Regions from separate parts of the Homo sapiens genome. Here regions 2, 3, 4, 5 and 6 are each linked to region 1. The links come from fine-mapping of genetic effects on gene expression. A gene starts in region 1. Each other region holds a variant in brackets. All regions are shown on one strand. Distances are between the middles of the regions.

Region 1 (4,089 bases):
TATTTAATAGAGGGATTTGAATAACCATGGAAGTTAGCCTGGAGAGAGATTTAGGAGGCAGATAAGCCTAGTGTTCACTGTGGGGGCAGATGCCTTCCCCATCTGTGCAGACGATTGGCCCAAGTGGCCATGATGACATGGCTCCTACCTACTTCCTAATGGACCTCAGAGAATTAAACAGCGAGGACAACAGCGAGTGTTGTCTCTCAGACCCTTGGCTTTTTCAGGACTGCCTGACCTTTCTTTGTCCTTATTTGGCTTCAAGTCAAGTCAGCTCAACCCTGATTGAGCACCGGCAATGAGTCATGTCTGTGAAGGCGACACAGCCCCTGTCCTTGAGGAGCTTCGAGTCCAGTGACTGTCACTTCAGTGGAAGTTGGGCTGGACACAGTCACATGTGTATGCCAGACATGAGGCTTTGTTCTCATTACAATAATTGCCCTGCATTATTCTAGCAATTAAGCTTCTCCACGTGTGTGGATGCATGTTCCCAATTTTTTCTGGCCTCTACCGAACACAATGTTAATATTTGAGAGCAGTCCTAAAAAATTAAATAATTATACAAACTGAATTAGGATAGCATAATATTACCAATCAGAGTAATGTGGCTTTGTAATCCAGTGTGATGTCATATGAATCTACAAATTAGGAAGCATGTCAGAGGAGGAAACCACATCCTTTATTGCTTTGCCTTAAATAGCTTAAAACTAATCTTTTCCATGAGCCAACAGCTATCTCTCATGTTTAATAATGCTCCTCCCTGCCCAGATGAAGCTAACTAAATGATGTTGCCCCCTGCACCTGCAAATGCCTGGTGCCAGGGCAGGGACACAGGGAATGGCAGAAGGGGAGACCAGATGTTGGCTGAGGCATTGATTTATGGGCATGACCTTCCATGTGCCCCGAGGATGGCTGAGACCAGGGTTTGATGAATGCAGTGCTCTGTGTGAGAAGTTCTAAGGTGACAAGCAAAGATTCTATCCTCTGGAGGGGCAAGCCCTATTATTAGGTTGGTGCAAAAGTAATCGCAGTTTATGCAGTTGTAATGGCAAAAACAGAAATTACTTTTGCACCAACCTAATACCAGACAGAGGAGGTGCAAGTGCATGCCACCAGGGCAGGTGCAGGTGATGGGGGCAGAGAAAACTCAGATGTCTCCAATCTGTGCAGAGTAGGGAAACAGAAAAAGCTAAGTGAGGAAAGTGAGATTGCTATCACACAGATGCATGTCTTAGGTTTTCTGATTCCATTCCTCATGAATTTCATTAAGTAATCAAAGTGCTAAGCATGAAATGTGGGTATGCTGTCACCAGGTGGCAGCAGCATCCACTCTCCAAAATGCATTTTGTTCAAACCTAGTATGTGCTGGGTATTCTGAGCACATAGCAGAGACTAAGGCAAAGAGTCCCTGGCACTGTGGAGCTTAGAGGCTAATGAGGTGGCAGGTGCTTACACTTTAGAAACCGTTGTGAGGAATAGCTAGTGGTAGTTAAATGATACAGTGATAGTTAACAGAGAGGAAAGCTTTTCTCTCACTCCAAGCTATATTTTTATTATCACTATTAATATAAATAGAAAATAAATATTAAAATAGTTATTAAATAAGCAAAAGATAATGTTGCATTTAGTTATACGATTAAGTAGAGGTTTTCAAATATTTTTTAGCTTTGTGCAACCGAAATTATATGAGGAAGCAAAAACCACAAATACAGAAAATAAGAACTTTTCTGTTTGAACAGAAACGAGGACACTGGGGAGGCCCTTCCAATGCAGGCCAGACTTTTAGGGGCTCGACAGAACACAGCTGGAGAAACATCCACACCACACGCGGTTTCACCTGCCACACGGCAGCCCGGGTGCCCGGATCACTGTGTGTGGAGACTCAGGCTCACCGGCAAACCTCTTCCGGTTCCGGTCAGGGTGCTGCCTCCCTATCCACTGGGAGTCCTTTTGCGTTTCAGATGCTCCCAGGCTCTCCCGCAGTTTAAAGACTTAACTCAGCGGCTTTCAGGGCCTGTGGTTGAGGGACTCCGAAAGAACTGTTGCTGGTGGACCGGTTCAGGGTCTTGACTTCGCCACACAAAAGAACTTGAGAGCACGTCCAAAGTAAAGGTAAGCAAGGGAGTTGATCGCACAGCGAAAGCGCACTCTGCCAGCGGATCGGAGCGGCCGCTCAAAGGCGAGGCAGTGCTGGCCGACACTGGGGAAACCCCCTTTATGGGGGTCTTACATGATTATTCATGAAGGGCTGGGAAGGGGTGTTGCCGTGAAGCATGTTCTGGGCTGTCTCCTGGTGGCACATGTGCTGTGGTTGTGCATGCTAGTACACACATCGCATGTCTCGTTAGCATCGTAAATCTCCACCCAGTTCTTTAGTATTCTAATGAGCGCAGGTCAGCCCAAGGACACTCATCTTGGGTTTCTGCACTTGGATGAATTCGCGGATTTTTCCTTCGCTCTTTGACCTCCTCGCTAAAGGATGGTCTAACCACGAGCCTGGGATGCGGCTTGTGCACCGCAGGTGGCTTGTTCTCGCCATCTATTTAGCAAGTTTGCTCTCCTTTAAGTGAGGCTGTGACCACCCTCTCTGACCTACCTCAGAACCTGTTGCTTAGCTTCAGAAATCCAGCCTGGTGCTGGGCTGAGGTCAGCCTGAGGTCAAGCCATGCCCCTGAGACTTAACTGCCCTTGGATACCAATTTTCAGCAACAGAAAAGAATGAAAATAAAGTTCACATGAGGGCTAGTGCTGCTGGCAATGAGAAGGTCCTGTGACTACTTTTATTACCACTTCAACGATAAGGAGGTGACCTTTCATTCTCATTTCTCTCTCTCTAATATTTTGCATTCTCCAACTGTTATCTGTAAGAACATCTTAGCGCATTTGAAAAGCAGGGAAAATATGTAATAAAAACCACAACCAACCACACCATCTTAATGATAGCACTATTATTTTGTAATTCCTTCCAGTATCTTTGCCCAAGGTTTATTACTTGTTGAGTATTTGCAATTGTCCTCAGTAAAATTCTGAGACATGATTTTTAATTTAACATACCTTAAGATTTTTGTTTGCAGGTGGCTGAATTTCTTCAGAAAAATTATTTTAAGGGCTACTCAACACTGAGCAGTTAGTATTCATTCAGGTGGCCATTCTCTGATGCCTGTATTGCTTCCAGCTGTTGGGAAATGAACCCAGTGGAGAATATTGTTTTTCTTTTGCTAACAACAACATCCGTTAGGACAGATTTCCACATGTCTGATTGCTGGGCCGATGACACAAACATCGACAATAGCGCTTCACGCGTGTTGACTGATGATTTCCAAAAGCTTATCTTCCCAGTAGGCAGTTTGCCAGATGCTTCCAGAAATAGATGAGAATGCCAATTTCATCACACTGTTGCCAGCACTAGGTATGTCCACTACATTTTAATGCTAGTGTAATAGGCAAAGGGGACCTGCTGTCTGTTTCACCATTCATTTCTTTGCATGGTTGTCAGGTGGGACATTGCATTCTCCTGGAGAGGCCAGATCACTATGTCTCCCAGGAGGCCCTAGCAGAAGCTGCTCTGGTGTCCAGCTCCTGTGTGAAGCCTCCCTGGTCCCTGACTCTTGGAACAGACTTCTTTTCTGCCCTTTAAACACCCCTAACATCATGCGTGGTCCTTTGCTATGACACAGTTGTTCCCCATTCTGCATCGTCATGAGGCTGTCTACACCCTCTCTCTCTCCTGGGCAGGGCTCCGGCTCTGCAGGGGATGGGGACGTGTGTTACTCTGTTAGTCCCCTGCCTTGTCCAGCACAGCACTGTACATGCCACAGAGGCCCCACAGAGCTTGATCAAAAACTAACAATGATTAAACCAAAATTACGAATGGACAAAAAATTTCCATCAAGAAACCTCAACATTTTAATGTTCATGAGGGGGGAATGTAGGGTAAATGCACCTGATAGTAATAAGCATACCCTTAGAATGACCCTGTATGGCAGATGCGCCTAAATGTGTGTTCTGTGCTAGGGAATCCAGGAGTGGCCAACCCGGAGATTGATTCTGTGTCTATGATAAACATCTGAGCCCCTGGCCTGTTCTGTG
Region 2 (4,089 bases), 54 kb before region 1:
TTATTATTGTTATTATTATTTTGACAGTGCCTCCCTCTGTCACCCAGGCTGGAGTGCAGTGGCATGATTTCGGCTCACTGCAACTTCCGCCTCCTGGGCTCAAGCGATCCTCCACCTCAGCCTCTTGAGTAGCTGGGACTACAGGTGCACACGACCATGCCCGGCTAATTTTTGTATTTTTAGTAGAGACAGGGTTTCATCATGTTGGCCAGGGTGGTCTTGAACTCCTGACCTCAAGTAATCCACCCACCTCGGCCTCCCAAAGGAAATTTTATAATGTCTTCGTCCTAAGGGTTCACCTTTCCTGCTTGCTCTTAGAGTAGGATTCTGAGGCCTTGGTCATGCACGTTAAGCCTCAGCCATTCACTAACTGTTAAGCTTTATGATTGCCTCAATCATTTCATTTATCCATTTAGGGAATGTACATAAGCACTCCCCTGTGCCATGCACTGTGTTGGGCAGTGGAGGTACAGCATGCACGGTCAGACATAGTTTCCAGATGAAGTAATATGTAAGGAGATTATGGAAGGATGAACAGGAAGTAGTTACGAGGACAGTCAGGAGGCAGGTGGAGGGAGGCATGCAAGGCAGAAGCACCCAGTATGTCAAAGCCTGGCTCAGAAAAACACGGCAAGTTTGTGGAGATCTTCTCAGATGTATTGTTTTGTTATCAAGTGTTCTTTTGCGTTTCATATCTTAAACTGAATGTAAATGGCATACAGCCCACCGTATCTATCTGCAATAAATTGCAAATAATTACATGTTATAAGTAAAAGTTACCAAGAGGCCACAAGAAGTTGTTTTAATTTATTGTTCATTTTAACCCGATTTTCCCAAGTGTGTCATTGATTTTTGAATTTTTAATATTTTTTCTGGAGTTCATGTTAAGACATACCAGAAGCCAGCAATTCTGTTGTTCTATTTTACTAAATATTAGTTATTTTCCAAATAAATTATTGGCAATGTATGTTAACAAATATTAAGTTGACAAAGTAACTTATTGAACTATCACCATATTTTTATTCTTAATAAACTTCATCAATTACATGGTACATATATGCCATTCAAGATCGACATTCTTTTAGAATACTACAGAGTTATTTCCACTTTAAAGCAGAGAAAATTGAGGCACAGGATGATTCAATGATTTGCCCCTGTCCTCCTGCCAATAAAGGGTCAAACTGGAATCAGAAGTCAGCTTTTCTGATGGAGGCTAACTCCTGTAAAATCGCATGTGGAGAAAGGACTCTTGTGTTTGACAGTCTAAGGGCCTTTTCTGCCTAATCTAAGGTCTGTTTCCCTATATGCAGGCTGGGAGGGGTGATTGTGCAGAGGGACCCTTGGAGAACTGTTACATTATGCAAACTTGATTATCCTGTCTGACATTATTGATGTCAGCAGCCATTGTGAAATGAAGTTTGGGAGATGGAGTGTGGAAGGTGGCACTTGTAATTTTTAATAATCATCCTCTTTTACTTCTTGGGGGGAGGCAGTGGGGGAGAAACAGAGCTTCAGGGTTGTGGATGCTTTAATGGAATCTGTCTGTCACAATAAGGAAGTAGAGAAAGTCTTTTAGCGTTCTACAGGCTAAATCACAGGGCTTGAACCATGGTGTTTTTGGTGAACAGAGATGCCGTACCATAAAGGCAGATGGAGAATGACTGCAGGGTCAATGAGATTGTCACC[C/T]CCCGCGGCAGGGACAATGTTTATTCATCTCTGAAATCCTAGTGCCCTTCACAGGGCACTTAGCTGGAGCTGGTCCAGTGAGAGCTGATTCCAAATACACTCTATAAAGGACCTTGTCTGTGTAGAATTTTGGCATCTCAGGCACTGTGATGACCACTCCTCCCAGTTCAAAATCTCCATATCCAACTACCTGATGAATTTCTCCCTTTGGATCCCAAATGACCAGAACAGGACAGATAATGTCCCCTTCAAGAATTTTTTATCTTATGTGAAGTCCAGTGAATGGTGTTACTGTCTACCCAGTCTTCCAAGTAAGTGTGACAGCTTGGCATCATTTTTAAATTTCCATTCTCCTTTGCCCCACATACCAGATCATTCACCAAGCACTGCCTCTTCTATTTTCTCATGATCTCTTGAATTTGTCCACTTCCCTCCATCTCTACCAACACCTCCTTGGACCATGCCAACACCATTTCTTGCATCTGCAGTTTCAGCAATCTCCTAATTGGTCTTCCTGCCATCACCTTCATTAATCCATTCTCCATGTAGTAGCTGGAATGACATCTAGTTAACCTTTACTTAAAACCTCCATGGCTCTTGAGGTCAAAGTTCAAACTCATTACATGGCCTAAGGCTTTTTGGGGTATGATCCCAACGAATTTCTCCATCTGTCTCCCATCCTGCTCCCTGCCTCCCTATCTTCTTCCAGTTCCTCTAATGCCACACTTCCCCACACCCAGCCTCCACTCATGCTGTTTCTTCTGCCAAGAACATCCTTCCCTGCTCTTGCCTAGCCAAATCTTGCTTATTTTCCATGTCTCAGTCTCAGTTCTTCAGTGGGGACTTCCCTGAATAACCGTATAAGCAAACATTAATAAAGTTCTTGCTATGTGACAGATACTTGCCTTTACATAGATTAACCTGTTCAATCCTCACAATAACCCTATGACATAGATAACATACGGTCTACAGTTAGCAGATGGAGAAACTGAGGCACTAAGAGATAAATGAACTTGTCCAAGGTTACATGCAAGGTAGAAGAGCTGAGATTCAAATGCAAGCGTCTTGGTTCCCTAGTCTGTGTTTTAATCACTACACCCTGACTCCAGACTATGCTGAGTTGTACCTGCTGTAGCCTGGAATTCACTTCCACTGCACCCCTAATGCTTATGCGGCATTATTCTCCCTTCTATAGTTACAGCATCACGTGGACAGGAACTGTGTCTGTCTTGTCCACGGGTGTGTCCGCAGTACCTGCACAATGCCTAGCATGTCACAGGCACTCATGAAGATGTTTTCTGGTTGAATGAATAAAAGATTAAAATTCTCCCTAAGCATATCAGCTGTTGGAGCCACTCTTGTTCCCAGTGTGTTTCAGATTCATTTGGGGGCAGAGAGCAAAAGTGTCTGCATGTGGCAGGTGAGATGCCCCTATATGAGGTGTTTGGATACAGTCGTATGCTGAAGAAGACTTTACCTCTTGGTTGGTGTTTCCCTACTTCCACTCCCAATATGGATGGCAGCCAAGCTTTCATTTTGCAGGTCTAAGCCTCTGTGTCTAGAAAACGGAGGTTTTAGTGACTTGTCTTTTGCAAAAGTAAGAATTGGCAGACACCATGGCAGTGGGCGTCCTCTCTTGCTGAGGACAGGAATGGGGCTAGGCTGCAGCATGCCTGATGAGAAGCTGCTGTGGGTGGTTGGGCAGTTAGGCACTATTTCCCATGGCCTGGAGAGCAGCTGAGAGGGTCCTGTGGGTCACTCTGTACTAGAATGGACTGCAGCTAGGGGCGCCCTGAGCCCTTTCCCTGGAGCTGAGTGACAGCTTGAGCTCAGGGGACCAGCATGTAGAGTAGAAGACTTGGGCTGAGGTCCCGCCCTCGTGGCCCCATCTCTGTGGGGTGTCCACTACGTGTGAGTCCAGGCCCTTAAAGATACCATGGGGTCGGGGGAGTAATAATGAATGCAGTTGAATTTGCTGTCTCTTGGATAGTGGCGGTTATTTGCAGATGAACTTTGGCTTAAAGAAAATAAAGAATGTGGCATGTCTTTCTTCCTAATGTTGTGAATAGGAATTCATTCCAGCTATGCTTGTTGGCACACCTCAAGCACGGTCCAGGGCTCAGGAACATATCGGTCTTATGCAGCTCTTGGATGCTTACCACAAAAGGAGGGCTGGTTGTGGGTGAGAGCCATGGCAGAGTCTGGGGCATGGCAGGTGCATTGCTGCAGGATGAGCCTTTGCGAAGGGCTAGGCTTGCTGCTTTGGGGCAGCTCCCAGGATGGCCACCAGCAGAAAAAGCTCCAGGCCTGGTTCCATGTTCTTTCTCCGGTCCCCACCTTTCCTTCCTCCACAGCACATTTTAAAGTCTGATTTCAGGGGCTTGGGAACGTCCCTCTGCCAGA
Region 3 (4,089 bases), 180 kb after region 1:
TGATGGAGGGCAAAATGTATAAATGGATGCAGCAAAGGGGCCTGGGGCCTTTTGTCTGAGAAGTTTCTGCAAACAAAGAAAGTGAGACCAAAGTCAAATGGGTCCCTCCATGATCCTTTGTGGTCAGTCTGTTTAGCTCAGTTCTCTGCCTGTGGCAGAGCATAGGGGAGCAGGATCCATCATCCATGGGAAGGAGACAAGGACTATGCAGGGTGGCTGTGCCCCAGCTGATCTTCAGGCAGGAGCCTAGCACCCACGTAAACTAGAGAGAGAGCTGCCCAGAGATGCCGCCGCAGTTATCCAGGAAGGGGAGGCAGCAGGAGGCAGGAGAGATTTGACTAGTGAGGACCAAAGCTCAGGGGCTACAAACACACAACACCTGTACCTGGGAGAACGAGACAGAGCTTGGTCCTACCACCAGCCAGTGAGGCTTTTGACTTGCCCTCTGCCCTGTCTTCTTTCAGGTCCAATGTCATCTTCTCAGTAAGGGCATTTCTGGGCACCCTATTCACCATCGCACGCCCTGCACCCACTCTCTTCTCCACTCTGCTTTCCCCTTTAGCTGTGGTCACACCAAATGTATTATGCATTTTATTTCTTTATATTGTCCACTGGGGTTCTACCTATGAGGATCCAGGTAGGAGTTCTCACCGTCTTGCTCACAGTACCTGGCACAGGGTAAGCCCCTGACAAATCATTCTTAAATAAATGGATAGATGGGTGAATGAAGAGTGGGTGTCCTGATCAAGTTTGCTCACACATTAGGCTTATAACCTCTTTAGAAAGGGGCATCTGTCACTCTGATGGCCCTGAAAATATCTCATAATCTGTCTTTCCAATTTTCCCTATAATGTATTTTCTTAAAGTAAACTTCAGTTAGAGTAAATTTCCTATAGAATTAAATGTGAAAAATCCTAGTGCTTTGTACCAGGTCAGAATTAACTTTCATAAAGATGACCTCGGAGCTGTCCCTTTTCACATCTTTTTTTCAGGGAACCATGAGTAAAAGTATAAAGACATTTAAAAAATTTTCCTTAAGGAAAAGAGATGCTAAAGTCTTCTCTAGTCTACATTAGACAGAAGAAATTGAGCCAGGACCTTGGGTTGGAAATTCTTATCTGTATATGTATTTACTCCTTTGCTTAATCATTCTCTCAGTCAACACATATTTTGTACTCCCTAGGTGCTAGGTGTGATATGAAGTACAGGCAGTGATGAGTAAGCTGTGCTCTTGGACTGAATGCTTTGAAGGTCAAGGAGGACAATGGTGGGGGAGAGGACATTGGCTGTAGACAACAGGGAGTTGCAGGTGGTCTTCTGGTGGGCCTCTGTGTGAGTCCACTGAGAGTCAAGGCAAAGATATAAAGAGTGATGAAGGTATGAACAGAAAGAATTGAGGTAGCAAGGGGAGGATACATTTTTTGAGAATTTTGGAGGTGAAGAGGAGAAGTCAAGGGTTGTATTGGGAGGAAAGAGCAGGGTTGAAGTTTGGGAATTGAAGTGATTATGAATATGTTGTAAGTACGTGGGATGTAGCCAATGGAGGGAAGAGCTGATGATGTGCGGAAGCCACTAACCCACTAAATCCCTTTCCCGCATCACAGGCCCTGCTGAAAGGGTTGACAATGAAGACTCTCAGGCCACCGTAACTCATGGAGAAGCCCTGAGCATCTGGCCCGCTTGTAAG[C/T]GAAGGAATGTGCTGGCATCAGGGCTGGGTGGGATTTCATTTTCCTCCTATCAAGTTACCCTTAGCCCTGGTATCGTGGAGAAGTTTGTAGCCACGGGCATGCCATCCAACGGAGGCAGCCTCTACACTTGTGCCCTGAAAAATCTAAAGCAAAATAAGTCATTTGGCAAATACATGTGGGTGCCTGAAACAAGCCAAAAGACTTCAGCGTTCAGGATGTGCAAGCCACATTAATAATAATGAGAAGGAACCAGGTCATCTGTTTCCTGATGCTCAGTCCTGGCAGCCTCTTAGGTGGAACAGGGGCCAGACGCTGGCTAGAGAGCTCTTACCTAGAGTTATTGGTCTGTGTGTTGAGACATGGGGCGTCTCCTGGTGGCCTGAGTGGGATGAGGACATCAGCTGAGCAGCAGTGGTGCTGCTCTGCAGCTTCAGCTTACGTGTTGTCCCAGCCACATAGCGCTGGAAGAAACCTGCCTGGAATGTGATCAAGTGAGTTCTCAGGAGTGGGGAGGTCACACGTGCTGCATTTTGATGCTGACTTTTTATATTCAAAGCAATTTGCCCAGGTGAGCTCAGTACAAGTATTGCATTACCTGATGGTTTATGGATAAAATACCTGGATGTACAACTTAGTTGTCTCAAATTCAGCAAAGTTGTTATAGTCTAAGTGATGGGGGTGGGGGGTGTTCAGTAGAGGTCTGAAATCCTGAAATCTGGGATTACAGTGATTCTCATAGGGAGATTTCAGGCACTTTTCTGTCATCCACTACCTGCCCTTCTGCCATTGCAGGGTCTAGTTATCTTTATCTCCTCTGAGGTCTGAGTTCTACATTCACTTGTTTCCTCATTTATTCATTAACAATATTCATTTCTTAGCCAAGGATGGTGGTGCACACCTGTACTTCCAGCTACTCAGGAGGCTGAGGTGGAAGGATTGAAAATCCATCCATCTGTCCTCCTACCCATCCTGCTATCCATCCATCCATCCATCCTCCCATAATCTATCTTCCCATCCATTTGTCCTTCCTTCCTTCCTTCCTTCCTTCCTTCTTCCTTCCTTCCTTCCTTCCTTCCTTCCACCCATCCATCCTCCCATTCATCCTCCCATGCATCCTCCCATCCATCCACCCAACCATCCTCCCATCCATCCTCACATCGATCTTCGCATCCATCCATCGATCGATCTATCCATCCATCCATTCTCCCATTCATCCATCCTCCCATCCATCCTCCTATCCATCCATCCATCCATCCACCCTCCCATCCATCCATCCTCCCATCCATCCACCCTTCCATCCATCCATCCACCCACCCTTCCATCCATCCACCCTCCCATCCATCCATCCTCCCATCCATCTATCCATCCATCCTCCCATCCTCCCATCCTCCCATCCATCCATCCATCCATCCATCCATCCTCCCATCCTCCCATCCTCCCATCCATCGTCCCATGTGTACATCTGTCCTGCCATCTATCCATACATCCATTTCTCCGTCCTCCCATCCATCTTCCCATCCATTCATCCATCCATCTTCCCATCCATTCATCCATCCATCCTGCCATCCATCCTTCCATTGATCCATCCATCCATCCTGCAGGAGACCAGGAGTTCAAGGCTGCCGTGAGTTATAATTGTGCCACTGCACTACAGCTTAAGTGACAGAGAGAGAAACCATCTCCAAAAATGAAAAAAAGAATATATTGATTTCAGGCCAGTTACATAGATTCTGTGTTGAACAAAACTAGATGTGTTTCATTCCTGTCTTTAAGGAGCATAAATCTAATAGGAACAACAGATAATTTTTAAAAAATATATCAATGTGTGTAAAATTTCAACAGGAATAAGCCCCAAGGAGGTGTGGTACCTGGGGCTATAAGAGTAGCTAATAGTAGAATTTGGGATAGTCTTGGGGAAGGAGAGGGCAGAGAAGGCTTCCTGGAGGGGTGATGGTTGCTTTGAGAGTGGAGAGAAAGAACCAGTGTTCTTGGAAAAGAGGGTGGCCTGAGCGAAGGGCCTGTGGCAGGAGGGAGTGTAGAATTCAAGGAACTGGGAGGAGGTCCTTGTGGCTAGGAATATGCAGAGTAAGGGGAAAAAGGCAAGAAATAAGGCTGGAGAGTGGGGAGGGCCACAGCACACGAGGCCTTCCCTGCCCACCTTGCCCACATGCCCCAGACGTACTGAGGAGCTGGATTTGGTCATTGTTCTTATGAGTGCTGTGTTCCCAGATTTCCCCTTCATAATCTGGCGACATCCACCAGAGCCAGCTCCTGTGTCCCTGATGTGATTACCCCTGACTCCTTCCCCTCCTGACACCTGCCCCAGGTACTCACACCTCTACCGATGATGCCTCAGCCTGGCCCTTTGGCTTTTTGACCTTGGACCCCTCCCCACTCCCTC
Region 4 (4,089 bases), 160 kb after region 1:
GGAGCTTGCAGTGTGCCGAGATCGCGCCACTGCACTCCAGCCTGGGCCACAGAGCGAGACTCCGGCTCAAAAAAAAAAAAAAAAAAAAAAAAAAGGAGGCTGAGATGCCAAGTAGCTTGTCACATATCACATGGCTGGAAAGCAGTGGAGGCAGGCGTGCGGTCTGGTTCTGCATCCCAGCTTTTAGAAGGTCTGTTGAGCTTGCATGGAGTAAAAAGGTGCTCTGGGACACCTGCTATCAGGAAGCCAAAGGCAAAACTGCACAGACATGCTCCTTCAACCAGCGCACACGGCAAAACTCAGGCCACTTTGGCTGCTCTTACTTGTTCTCTATAAAATGTTTGTACTTTATAACAGCGGTCCCCGACCTTTTTGGCACCAGGGACTGGTTTCTTGGAAGACAATTTTTTTTTTCCATGGACCAGGGCAGGGGGATGGTTTGGGATGATTCAAGCACATTACATTTATTGTACACTTTATTTCTATTATTATATTGTAATATATCAAGAAATCTACACAGCTCACCATAATGTAGAATCAGTGGGAGCCCTGAGCTTGTTGTCCTTTAACTAGACGGTCTTAGCTGGGGGCGATTGGAGATGGTAACAGATTGTCAGGCATTAGATTCTCATAGGGAGTGTGCAACCTAGATCCCTTGCACGTATAGTTCGCACTCTAGTTCATGCTCCTATGAGAATCTAGTGCTGCTGTTGTTCTGGCAGAAGGTGGAGCTCAGTTGGGAATGTGAGCCATGGGGAGTGGCTGTAAACACAGATGAAGCATGGCCCGCTCTCCTGCCACTCACCTCCTGCTGTGCAGCCCAGTACCCGTCCGTGGCCCTGCGATTGAGGGCCCCCGCTTTATAAAGAACCTTACACTTACTTCACTGTAAACACAATTTGAAATTCTCATTCTTTTAAAATACTTAGTTCTCATACTTTAAGATATGTAAGTTTGACAAGTGATCAACTTTTGAAAAAGCAGCATTTAGGTGTTTGGAAATAAATGGCATGACTGCAAGGTGTTTAGCCGATGCTGTTTCTTAGTGATGCCTGTGGAAATAGCTATGTTAGATTGTAACTGTTTCCTGTGTCTGCTGTAACAAATTACAAAAAATTTCGTGGCTTAGTGCAACAGAAACTCACTCTCCCACAGTTCTGGGGGCCAGAAGTCCAAAGTCAACGTGTCGGTGGGGCCACACTCACTCCTGAGGCTCTGGGGGAGGGATTTTCCTCACCTTTCCTAGCTTCTGGTGGCTCCTGGAGATCCTTGGCTGTAGTCACCCCCTCCCATCTCTGCCTCTGCCTTCACATTACCGCGTCCTCTGTGTGTTGATGTCTTCTCCTCTCTGATCTTGTAAAGGACATTTGTCACTGGATGTAGGGGCCACCCAGGTCATCCACGATGATGACATCGCCAGACCCTTAACTTCATCTGCAGAGACCCTCTCCCACATAAGGTCACATTCACAGGTGCTGGGATGTGAACAGACCTTTTCTTGGCTCGGGGAGGGGGCAGCATTCAACCTACTGCTGAGGTCATTTGTTCAAAGCACTTAGAACAATGGCATCAATAAGAGCTCAAGGAATACTGGTGGTTGCTATTAATATAATAGTAATGATTATTATTTCCTAGGGTAGGGTTTGGGAAGCCTCCAGGCCTTTTGGTTAAAACTGAACTGATGAGCACAGAGAGTCAGTGCAACAGGTGGGGGAAAGGCCTGGGAGCCTGGCGGCCCCTGCTCCCACCAGTAAGGCTGCCTGTCCGAGGGGAGGCCTGGGGGCTCCAGCCTCATCCCCCATCAGCACAGCGAGAACAGTGGTTTCTTGCTGGGGATTGCAGTGTCTGCCTTTCGAGTTTCCTTGGAGCAGATGTTCTGAGAGTTCAGTGTTTTCCCTGCTGAGAAGCCCAGGGCTCTGACCCTGCCAACATGCTCCCGAGATTCCTAAACACAGCACTGATTGGAACCTGACCTCTTCACAGTGCAGAGGATCCTTGGGGGCTCCTGCTCTTTAGTAAAAACACAGCTCGCCTCTCATTTTCCACCTGGAGCTCCTCACCCGCAAGCCCTGGTGGAGCTGCTTTGAGGATGGACCAGAGCCTCATTCTGTGATGCTATCATTTCTGCATCCACAGATTCACTGCACTGGCCATACACATGCTCGGCTGCCGGGGGACCAGGAATGCAGGGTGCGGGCTCCTGACCTGTGTTTCTAAAGTCTGCTCATTCACCC[C/T]TCGCCCAGTGCTTCTCATGCTTTCAAGGAACACACACCCTTTCAAGGGTCTTGTGTGTGCCAGGCACCCTGAACAGGCCCAGCCCCGCACTTAATGAGCTACTCACGAATCAGAGGACAGGATGGTGAAGTGACAGGCAGTCACACTGCTTGCAAGGGGGTGACATTTGGGGGCAGGAGGCTGTAGGGTCCATGAAGAAACTCCACTGTAGGTTGTGGGGTCGGAGGAAGCCGAGGGCTAAAGGATGAGTATCACCTGGAGAGAGGAAGAGGTTTCCATTGACCTGGAGAGAGGAAGAGGTTTCCATTGGCAAGTGGTACTGGATTCCTGTTTGCTGTGGGAGCTGCCTGGGTGTTGTAGGATATTGAGTTTAGGCAAAGCCCTGGAGGCAGCAGATAGCAGGTGTGTCTGTAACTATGTGACCCCAGGGAGGTTGGCGCCCAGTGGGCAGCCTGGGGAGCATAAGAGGAGGCTGTAGGAGCAAACAAGCAGGCAGGATCCTGGAGGGCCCATAGGTACTGAGGAGTGTGGGCTACGTGTTTGGAGCAGGAAAGCCACATACTCCGAGCAGCCTTTTACAATGGCCCACCTGCTGTACTGGGACCTTATCACTCCATGCTGGGCTCAGATTAACACCAGTGAAAAACATCTCAAGATCTGCTCCTGTGTGGTTTCTCCTGGTCAGTCACCCAAGAACCAGCCCTGCAGCTTTCTCCACTGGCCCACGGCACAGACTCCAGAGTGGCCGCCGCACTCGCCCTGTATGGGCCCTGCAGCTTCTGTGCCATCACTTCCCCGAGCTCACTCACACCTTGCACCCCAGCACCGGGCCACCCAGCACCGTCCACACTGTGCAGTCGTGTGCTTCCCGAGAGTTGGTTATATTTGTTCCCAAACCTGTTTACTCCAGTCGTACTTGCTAGTGTAAATACACCCTGCAATTAAATATTACATAAAAAAATGAACATCTGAGTGCAAATAAGAAGGCCGTCGCTTCTATAAATAAAGGTTGAATTTTTGGAAAGACTCAAACAAGGCAAGGTACTAAAACTTTCTTCAAATTTTTTTTTCTGTGAAACAGCAATAAAGCACTGAGGGAAAAATAAGTCAAAATTCCAGCTGATGGCTATACCTGCTGCTGCTTCAAATTCTCTTCATGTTCTCTCGCCAGGATAAACAAACTGGAGGTGGTTTCATGGGTGTGGCGCATGCGAGGCCCACAGCAGAGGGCAAAGGGTTTATCTTTTTGTTTGGTTTTGTTTCTCAAAGGTTGGTAAATCTACACCTGCAGGCATGTTTAACTGTTTTATGTTACAGTATTTAAGATGCATCATCTTTAGCAGTGTCTCCTGTTGTATTGGGTAAGAGGGTGTGGGCTGAGAATGTTTGTGGTCAGGAAGAAGAGGGCACCCCTAAGAGCTCAGGGTGGCTCCAAGCTCCATCCATGTCTTGGTCTGTAAACTGGAACACCAGTGACAGTTTCTACCTATGAGACAGCCGTGTGGAAAGGTCTCAGCCATGCCTGGTACATGATCAGCACCCCAGCATTAGATGTTGAGAGAACAAAAAAGTATAGAAGAGAAGTGAACATTTATTCCTCTAGGAAACAAGCAAATTACTTATATATATAACATATATTAGATATAAATTATATCTAATATATGTTATATATTACATAATTATATATAATTTATATATATTTATACATATATAGCTATATAATTATATAATTTTATATAATTATATATAACATAATTATAAATATATAATACATACATATAAAATATATGTATGTATTATATATTATGCATATGTGTTATATATAATACATACGTAAAATTATATAATATATAC
Region 5 (4,089 bases), 800 kb before region 1:
ACTTTGCCTCTCTGGGCCCCTGTTTGGCTGTCTGTAGTTAAACGGACCACCTCATCTCTGGGACTTCAAAAGAGGAGAGGACGGTCAGCAGGGGTGGCCTGCTCAGAAGGGCCATACTTTGTCCCCAACATCCCTCAACAACCCCAAGGGCAATGCCACCCCAGACCTCACTGCCAGGCCTTCCAGAGTCCAATAAACTCATGTCCCATGACCACAGCTTGTTCCCTTGATCTATGTGCACCTGGGGATGCTGGTGGCTGGGAGGTGAGTTCATGAGGCCTCAGATCCGCCCTTGAAGTCAGTACTGACATTCACCCATTCTTCAGACGAGGACATAGAGGCCTGGGAAGAGTCAGCAAGGACAGAAGCTGGGTTCACAGCCCCCCAGGCCAGCTCCAGAGGCCTCAATCTTCACCAGCAATGTGCCTCTGGGCTTGAGAAGATTGGACAGGAAGAACACAGGAAGCTCCAAGAAAAAAGAACTGAAACTGCACCAAGAGTCAATGATCTGCTGCCTCCTCAGACGTGCAGCAATCTGACAACATCCATCAAAATTAAAAGCGCGTGCACCCTTGACTTCACAATGGCCTTCTAGGAATTTACCCTCCCAACGCACTAGTGCACGTGTCTAAGATACAAGGTTCTGCCGTAGCAGAACTGCTTACGGCAATGAGTTTATGGCTGCCCACACCCCCAGCCTCAAGTGAGGAGGCTCCAACTCCACAGCAGGTTGGCAGGGGCTGAGCTGTGCCCCTCCACTCAATGGAAATATTTCCTGGACCAAAACGGAACTGCACCAGGGACCAAGACAGACAGGACCTCCTCCACCCCGTGGAAGGTAACATGGAGAGAGGTCCCAGTGGATCCACCAAAGAAAAGGAATGTCCATCTTATCTTTCACCTAGAGTGGGATCCAGTGCAAACCAGCACACACAGGAGGATCCACTGTAGTTGCTGGAATGTAAGATGGACATACCGTGTGTGTATGTATGGGAAACTTCTGGAAAATGCAATGTTGGGGTGAAGGAGGTAGGAGGCTTTTTCTTCCTATTCTTATGTCCTTCAGTCATGGTTCATTTGGTTTTGCACTCTCATGAGCATATATTATTTTATACTTAAAAAAAAGGGATTGCATTTCAAAACTTCCATGACCAGCTCCGAAGTCAGTGGGTCAGAGGGAATTCCCTGCTCACTCCTGGAACAGACCCATCCAGCCCCCTGCCACCTTCCTGGGCTCTGCAGGAACCACATTCACGCCAAGTTTGGAAGCAGCTGGGTTATGTGCTCTTTACACCAGTGCTGCTGGACATAGACTTGGGAATCCTTTTTATGGAGGAGAGGGACAAGGAAGGCAGAAGCGCCTGGGGCCCAAGCATGTTACCTTCTCAGCAACCGCTGTACTCTGCACATTTGTTTTCTTGTGGAAGTTCTGGAAGAAGGTGGAGGAGGCTTGTCCTGAAAAGGCTGGTGGGGCCAGAGGATGGCCAGTGGACCTGCTATCTGCACTCCTCGAGATGGCCATGGGGAGCCCCAGAGATTCTACCCATGTGGGTGGGGGTAGGAGCAGCAA[G/A]TTAGGTCTGGTAAATGTTAACCCTCCTTTAGTTGCACATGCAGGCTGGGATCATTCAGAAGAGACTTTAGTATTTGGAAGCAGTGTTAATCCACCACTAGCAAGAGCCAGCCCTCACCCCACACATGCATGGCACCATCTTTGCCGGCACTGCCTGCAGAGGCCTAAGTGCTCTGGGCTGGAAACTTGGCCCCACTCCTCTGAATGACCAAGGCAAGTTCTTTGATCACTGCCTCAGTATCCCCATTTGCACTGTAGGGATAGTGATAACACTTTCTCATGGGATGGTTGTGAGAACTAAATGAGATAATGCATTATATGTTCTTAGAATAATGTGTGCTAGGCACATGTTATCAATAAAAATAATGAGAAGGAGACAAAAAGAAGGGGATCTGCCTTGCAATCTTTTCATGTGTCTGCTATGAAACAATGTCACATCCATCATGATGGGCAGCCCCATTGTGTGGAGCATAAGTCACTTTGGGGCCTTTCCAAATCTCAACGGGGATGCAAGCTGGCTGGAGAAGGACTCTCTGGGTTACTGAGACATGCCCTGTGTCAGACTGGGTGGCCCAGAGATGTCATCTTTGCAAAGAATGGTGTGTTGCAAGAGAAGAGATGGGACGCTGATGAGCAGGGAGGGTGTCAGGGTTCAGCTATGTGGGGACAAGCTCACTGTGTAGCAAAACAACATCTGCACCCAGCATGGGGAGACTGAGGGTGTTTGCTAGGGAGCAGCTGGGGAGATGGATCCTGATGAAAAGGAAGTCTTCCAGCCAGTCCTTCAGACAGCTCCGAAGGACACCGGAGCCAAGAGGGCCTTGTGGTAACAATTTTGCAGAGCCAATGGAGCACGGCCCTGGTGCTCTGGGGTTGATCCTCGCTTTCTAGAAGCTGATCCTACGGGTAGCGGCATCCAGGAAGCCTTCTGCAGCGTGGTCAAAGCACTAAGAGATGAGAAGCTATTGCAAGAGCCCTAGGGGGCTAATCCATTCTAGAGACCACAGCACATGTGGCGATTAAGCCTGCAGGCCTAGAGGAGGGGCGTTGGGTGCAAACCCTGGCTCCTAACCAAAAGGCTTTTTGACTTGAGGCAAGTAATTCAACCTGTCTGTGCCTTGTTTCCTTCTCTGCAGTTCTTGTGAGGGTTCGATGATATGATAAGGGTTTTAAAAGCAGGTGCAAGCTCCCTGTGATCATTCTTTTGCCTCAGTATCCCGGCAGGCATTGAGAAGGCTGCTTGGAGGAAGGAGCCTTTGAGTAGGGCCTCAAAGGATGAGGAGGTGTACCCCAAGACGGAGGGGCGTTGAGACAGAGGGAAAGCATGTATGCAGTCCCATGGCTAGGATTTGGGGGTGGAGTGTGTTTGAGAGTGTGAGTGTGTGCATCTGTGTGAGTTTGTGCGTGTGAATGTGAGTATGAGTATGTGTGTCTGTGTGTGCATGTGTGTGAGTGTGCATGCATGTGTGTGCTTGTATGAGTGTGAGAGTATATGTGTATGTGTTTGAGTCTGTGTGCTTGTGTGTGTGTGCATGTGAGTGTATGTGTGTTTGTATGTGGCCTGTGTGTATGTGTGTGTGCTTATATGAGTGTATATGAGTGTGTGCTGTGTGAGTGTGCATGTGTATGAGTGTGCGTGTGCTGTGAGTGTGCATGTGTGTGTGGGTGGGTATGCATGTGTGAGTGTATATGAGTGTGTGCTGTGTGAGTGTGCATGTGTATGAGTGTGCGTGTGCTGTGAGTGTGCATGTGTGTGTGGGTGGGTATGCATGTGTGAGTGTATATGAGTGTGTGCTGTGTGAGTGTGCATTGTGTGAGTGTGTGTGTGACTGTGTGGGTGGGTATGCATGTGTGAGTGTATAAGTGTATGTGCTTGTGTGTGCATGTGTGTATGGGGGTGTGACTGTAGGCATGTGTAGTGTGTGAGTGTGTATGTGCTTCGTGTGCTTGTGTGAGTGTATATGAGTGAGTGCATGCTTGTGTGAGTGTGCATGAGGGGGTGTGTAGGAATGTGTGAGTGTATGAGTGTGTATGTGCTTGTGTGAGTGTGTGTGCATGTGAGTGTGCATGTGTATGAATGTGTGTGCATGCATGTGTGTGTCTGTTGCTAAGGGAGAGGACTTAGCATTAGTGAGCAGCAGGAGACGAAAGGGGAAGCAAGTTTGGGGTTCATGCAGTCATGTGACAGGCTCTGGGGCTTCCTCTGCAGGCCTTAGGGAACAAGCCTGGTTTGGAAGCACTGAGGCTGAGGTGGTGGTGACAGGCCCTCACTTGGTTTCACCCTGGGGGTGTAGGTGGGCACAGGAACAATAGCTGAGCAAGCAAGAGGGGACAGAGGCTGCATGCAGGGCCTGAGCCACCTAGAAGGAGGCTGCTTTCCCAGCCCGGCCCTCCCGCAGCGCCTGTGTGCTCATAGGAAAATCCTCCTCCCGAGAGATTTATGGCTGGCGGCTGCGACAGCTCTCGTGTCCTTTGCAGGGGGAGCTTGGCTACTCCTGCCTTGGGCTTAGGCAGAGCGC
Region 6 (4,089 bases), 120 kb after region 1:
TGATGGTCCTCTATCCACTTCATAATCTTTACTGTGTGCCAGTGAACAAGAGCCCCAGGTGCCCACCCTCCTCAGAGACAGTTCTGTGCGAAGGATAGACCAAACCAAGCAAGCAGACAAATAAATCACAGTAATTGTATGAGGAGGAAAATCAGCAAGGAAACCAGCAGTCAGTGTGCGGAGAGCTGTTCCCCAGATGGAGTCAAGGAAGTCTTCCTGCAGAGGTGACGTGATTGAGACGGGAGTTGGGGAAGGTGCACTGGAAGCTGGGTGGGTCTCAGAGGGCAGCCTGGTGGTTTATTCGGCCTGGTTGTGTGTGCCAGGCACGGCCGAGGGCACTAAAGGAAGGGTGCCTCACTGCAGAGGAGGAGGAAGCTCCAGTGCCGGCAGGCTCCTGGGATGGAGTAAGGACATGTGGGTGTCGGGATGTGATTCTGGTGAAGCATTTGAGCCCTACCACTCCAAAACCTGAGTTCAAGAACTCACCCACTACATATGAGCAGTGTGGACTTGTGAAAATTAACCTCTCTTATCCTTGGCTTTCTTTTTGGTACAGTGGAGTTGATGAAAAGCATCAGCTTCAGAGGATTGGAGGAAAGGCACGTAGAGTGCTGATGACAGGGCCTGGCACACAGCAGGAGCTCAACCAATGCTCAGCGCTGAGAAGGGACTCACTGTGCTTAGCAATATTGCTGCGGGAAAGCCAGATTGTCCCTTCAGGATCCATCAATGCCGAGGGCAAGGAGAGAAAAGCATTTGGGATTTTCTTTTATGGGTCTCTTCTTTCAATTTCATTTTCATGTATCTCAATTTTTGTTGACTGTATTCACCACTACTTCTTGACTGTTTTTTATGTTCTAGGCACTTTTCACAAATATCTATTTAATCCTTAGTTCTCTATGAATTAAATAGCTATTTGTGAAATCCTATTGGTGGAATCCTCCCACCTTTGTGAGTGTGAATGTGTGTGTAACTTATGTATCATAGAGTTTAAGTAAACTGTTAAATATTACACAGCTATTGAGTGGTGTAGCTGGGGTTTGAACCAAAATCTACCTGGCTCCAAGTTCCTTCTCCTGACTGATATTAGTTTGTTGGGCATCACGAGGTGAGGGCATCTAAAAAGTCTTGTGTGTTTAGATCCTTCCTGGATTTCTCAGGGACTTGTTTCTGTTGACCAACAGGTGTTAGGAGGTAGAAGGAAATGCATGTAAAGTACCGGCCTGCAACTGTTGCTTCTGGCAGAAGAGCTGAGCTTCACCCATCTCTGCCATTAGATAAAGGATGTGGTTGCTATTGCCCAAGAGACTTCTTCTTGGAAATAATGCCGGAAAAAAAAAAAAAAAAAAAAAAGCAATTCCTTGCAAATCCAGCAGTCACTAAAAACACGGAGAACTAAGTTTTTAGGATGGTCAAAAGCCACCCACCTAGTCCATTTTATTTGTTTCCTGTTCATTTCTTTTATTTTCTTCTTCTATCTCCATAATCTTTATTTCCCCACGACAAGATTCTCATCTAACTCTCTATTTAACATACCAATGCTTCTTGAGGACGCCGTTATCTATTGTTTCTTACGGTGCACATTCATTAGCACTTGCCAGAGAGGGGCTGTGTACTGTCATTTCTGCGCCTGCCTTTGTTAGTTTTAGATTAATTCCTGCTGTGGTCATGTTCTTTGGGATAATTTTATCAAGATTTTCTTTCTCTTGCTTTATTACTTGCTTTCTTGGTTACTTTATTAAATTTTAAAATGTCTTATTAAGGTTACTTCTTTCATTGTGACAAAAGTATAACTTTTCCAACTTTGCTCTAAAAACTTGTAGAACAAACTCTTAATAGCCGCCCCCCTCCCCAGGGACATGGGGCAGGACTAGGGTGGGAGTGTGGTGGGGAAGAA[G/C]AGCTCTTACTTTTTAGTCTAAATGTTTCTTTATGGCTTCAATTATTTATAACCATCACAGACTATTTTAATGAATTGTTTTCAGTAATAAATAAGACTTGTAGATCTGATAATGTTATTTTTATAAACTTTTTTTTAATCAGGCCATGCTCTTCAAGATGCAGAGGTATAAGAAGTCCTTAGTGAAATAACTTTTAAGAACTGTGCATTAAAAAGATGGCTAATGGCAATCCCAGCACTTTGGGAGGCCGAGGTGGGTGGATCACGAGGTCAGGAGTTCAAGACCAGCCTGGCCAACATGGTGAGATCCTGTCTCTATTAAAAATGCAAAAATTAGCTGGGCATGGTGGTATGCACCTGTAATCCCAGCTACTCAGGAGGCTGAGGCAGGAGAATTGCTTAACCGGGACCCAGGAGGTGGAGGTTGCAGTGAGCCAAGATCACGCCACTGCACTTCAGCCTGGGCTACAGAGCGAGACTCTGTCAAAAAAAAAAGAAAAAAAAAAAAACAAGGAAAAGAAAAGAAACTAGTGTGAATATGAGAGCTTCATTGAATCCAGGGATATGGCTTAATAGAGATTTTTAAGGCCACTTGACCTAACTAGAGTTTGCAGCTCAAATAGAAGTTTTATTGGGTTCTGTTATTGGATTATCCAGTGGGGCAGAGGTAGAGCTGCCAGCTCCCAAATTAACACTGTAGATTGGCATCTACTGCAGGCAAATGACTTCCAACTTGGCCATCACTGAAAACCATATGGAAAGACAATTTACAAAGTCTCTGGAGGCTTTTTGGTGACTTAGTGATTGGCCTTTTGGAAATGGACAGAGCAAGGAGACAGAACAAACCTGAATATTTGGTGGCTGCAGCTCTTTTGGTCTTCACAATCCATTAAGTCCTCACCTGGGTAGGTGTCTACCTGTTACAGGTGGGCAGGTAAGCCTGCTCGCTGGCCATGGAGGCAGGACACCTCTGGATGGAAAATGAGCCTGTCTCGGAGAGCGACCCCTGGTGGATGGGGAGCTTTCCTGCACTTCACAAACATCACTAAAGGTGAATCCCATTCCCCTCCTCTGTCTACCTCCTTCTCTCTGGGCTCGTCTCTGTTTCCAGTCATCTAAATAGAAAGGAATCCTTAAAGATACAGTAGTCAAAACATTGTAAGCCCTCTCCTACCCCTCTGTCCACTCCCCACACTCACACATCAGATGTGGGTTTCTTAAATATAAATCTAGGATTAATGCATTCAAGCCTGGTTCCTTGGGGGAAAGCTGGAATAACCAGCAAATGTCAAAATGTTTTCTTTAAATATCTAAATGAGTGGAAAATAAAACAATATAATTTCCCCAGGAATTACCTGGCCACTGGTCTTTTCCATAGACATGATACATCCCCTTATTTCTCCCCAGGGTGAATCCAGTTGGGAGTATTTGACACTGCAGATCTCGGGTGCTCAGAGGGAGGCACCATTAGTTTAATAAGAGAAGGTCCTGAGTCTGAGGGTTCTAAAGGTGGCCCCCATAGACTCTAGGCAAACTGCTCAGCCACGGTCTCATGAATATCACATCTTTCTGTAGGTCTGGAAGAGACCTGGCAACACCTCCAGAAATGGCCTCCTTCTCTGGGTAGTACCAGTTAACCTCTAGAATCTAGTATAACTCGAAATTTTTATTGGAATTATCCAACCATTACCCTGCTCGCTGTATTAGCTCTGCCCTCGAGCGCTCTTGACTAAGTATCAGGGGAATGAAGAGCTTTGTCAATTGGAACCCAAGCCTCCTGATCTTAATTAGAGATGTGCCAAAGTACCTGAATTTAATGGGGGAGGTTGGCAGACAGTTCTCTCTCCACCCCTCTTGCATTTAATGACTTCATTACTGATTACTGTCCACAGCAATGCAGAAATTAAATATGCTCTGCAGAAAAGCAAAAAGGTTGAAATGCAGTTGCTTTTGCATAGCAAGTTCCACGCGAAGCTTTGCACTGTTTGCAAAACGGGGAGAGCCAAGATGTTAGCATGCCTCCCCCACACATACCCTGCCACAGCGCAGCTCAGCCCAGCAGTCTGGCCTCCCAGGCCCGGGAGGGGCCCATACGGAAGGTGGGGAGAATGAATTATTCATGTGCTCGCTCCCATCCACAGATAATTCAATATTCTGCTCTCAATAATCTTTGCCAGCGTTATCTGTATTCA

Which allele goes with the higher level. Positions count from the first base shown, and alleles are read on the strand shown. Sizes are in standard deviations (SD) of each study's normalised expression. Not every link is listed here.
For the expression in whole blood of the gene that starts at base 1,960 in region 1, G is the high allele of the variant in region 6 and C is the other (small effect, 0.28 SD a copy in GTEx).

Evidence for each region. PIP is the estimated chance that this variant, and not a neighbour inherited with it, causes the effect. A credible set is the group of variants that fine-mapping cannot tell apart.
Region 2: its variant is the best candidate, but not a certain one, in a credible set for the expression of MIR646HG in lung (TOPMed, PIP 0.55).
Region 3: its variant is the best candidate, but not a certain one, in a credible set for the expression of MIR646HG in whole blood (TOPMed, PIP 0.86).
Region 4: its variant is the best candidate, but not a certain one, in a credible set for the expression of MIR646HG in whole blood (INTERVAL, PIP 0.86).
Region 5: its variant is the best candidate, but not a certain one, in a credible set for the expression of MIR646HG in esophagus muscle (GTEx, PIP 0.89).
Region 6: its variant is the best candidate, but not a certain one, in a credible set for the expression of MIR646HG in whole blood (GTEx, PIP 0.61).

The regions. Positions count from the first base shown.
Region 1 is chr20:60,136,533-60,140,621 of GRCh38, forward strand. It overlaps MIR646HG (MIR646 host gene), which reads left to right and starts at 1,960. Exons shown (of 5, transcript NR_046099.1): 1 at 1,960-2,112.
Region 2 is chr20:60,082,452-60,086,540 of GRCh38, forward strand. No RefSeq gene overlaps it. Among named protein-coding and RNA genes, the nearest start is that of LINC02910, 29 kb to the left of the region's middle. The variant C/T (reference allele first, on the strand shown) is at 1,687.
Region 3 is chr20:60,311,706-60,315,794 of GRCh38, forward strand. The region is part of intron 3 of MIR646HG (MIR646 host gene); the gene reads left to right. Among named protein-coding and RNA genes, the nearest start is that of MIR646, 5.3 kb to the left of the region's middle. The variant C/T (reference allele first, on the strand shown) is at 1,688.
Region 4 is chr20:60,297,085-60,301,173 of GRCh38, forward strand. All of the region lies in intron 3 of MIR646HG (MIR646 host gene), which reads left to right. Among named protein-coding and RNA genes, the nearest start is that of MIR646, 9.3 kb to the right of the region's middle. The variant C/T (reference allele first, on the strand shown) is at 2,235.
Region 5 is chr20:59,338,147-59,342,235 of GRCh38, forward strand. No RefSeq gene overlaps it. Among named protein-coding and RNA genes, the nearest start is that of EDN3, 40 kb to the left of the region's middle. The variant G/A (reference allele first, on the strand shown) is at 1,571.
Region 6 is chr20:60,260,289-60,264,377 of GRCh38, forward strand. The region is part of intron 3 of MIR646HG (MIR646 host gene); the gene reads left to right. All of the region lies in intron 1 of LOC105372698 (a long non-coding RNA gene), which reads left to right. Among named protein-coding and RNA genes, the nearest start is that of MIR646, 46 kb to the right of the region's middle. The variant G/C (reference allele first, on the strand shown) is at 1,898.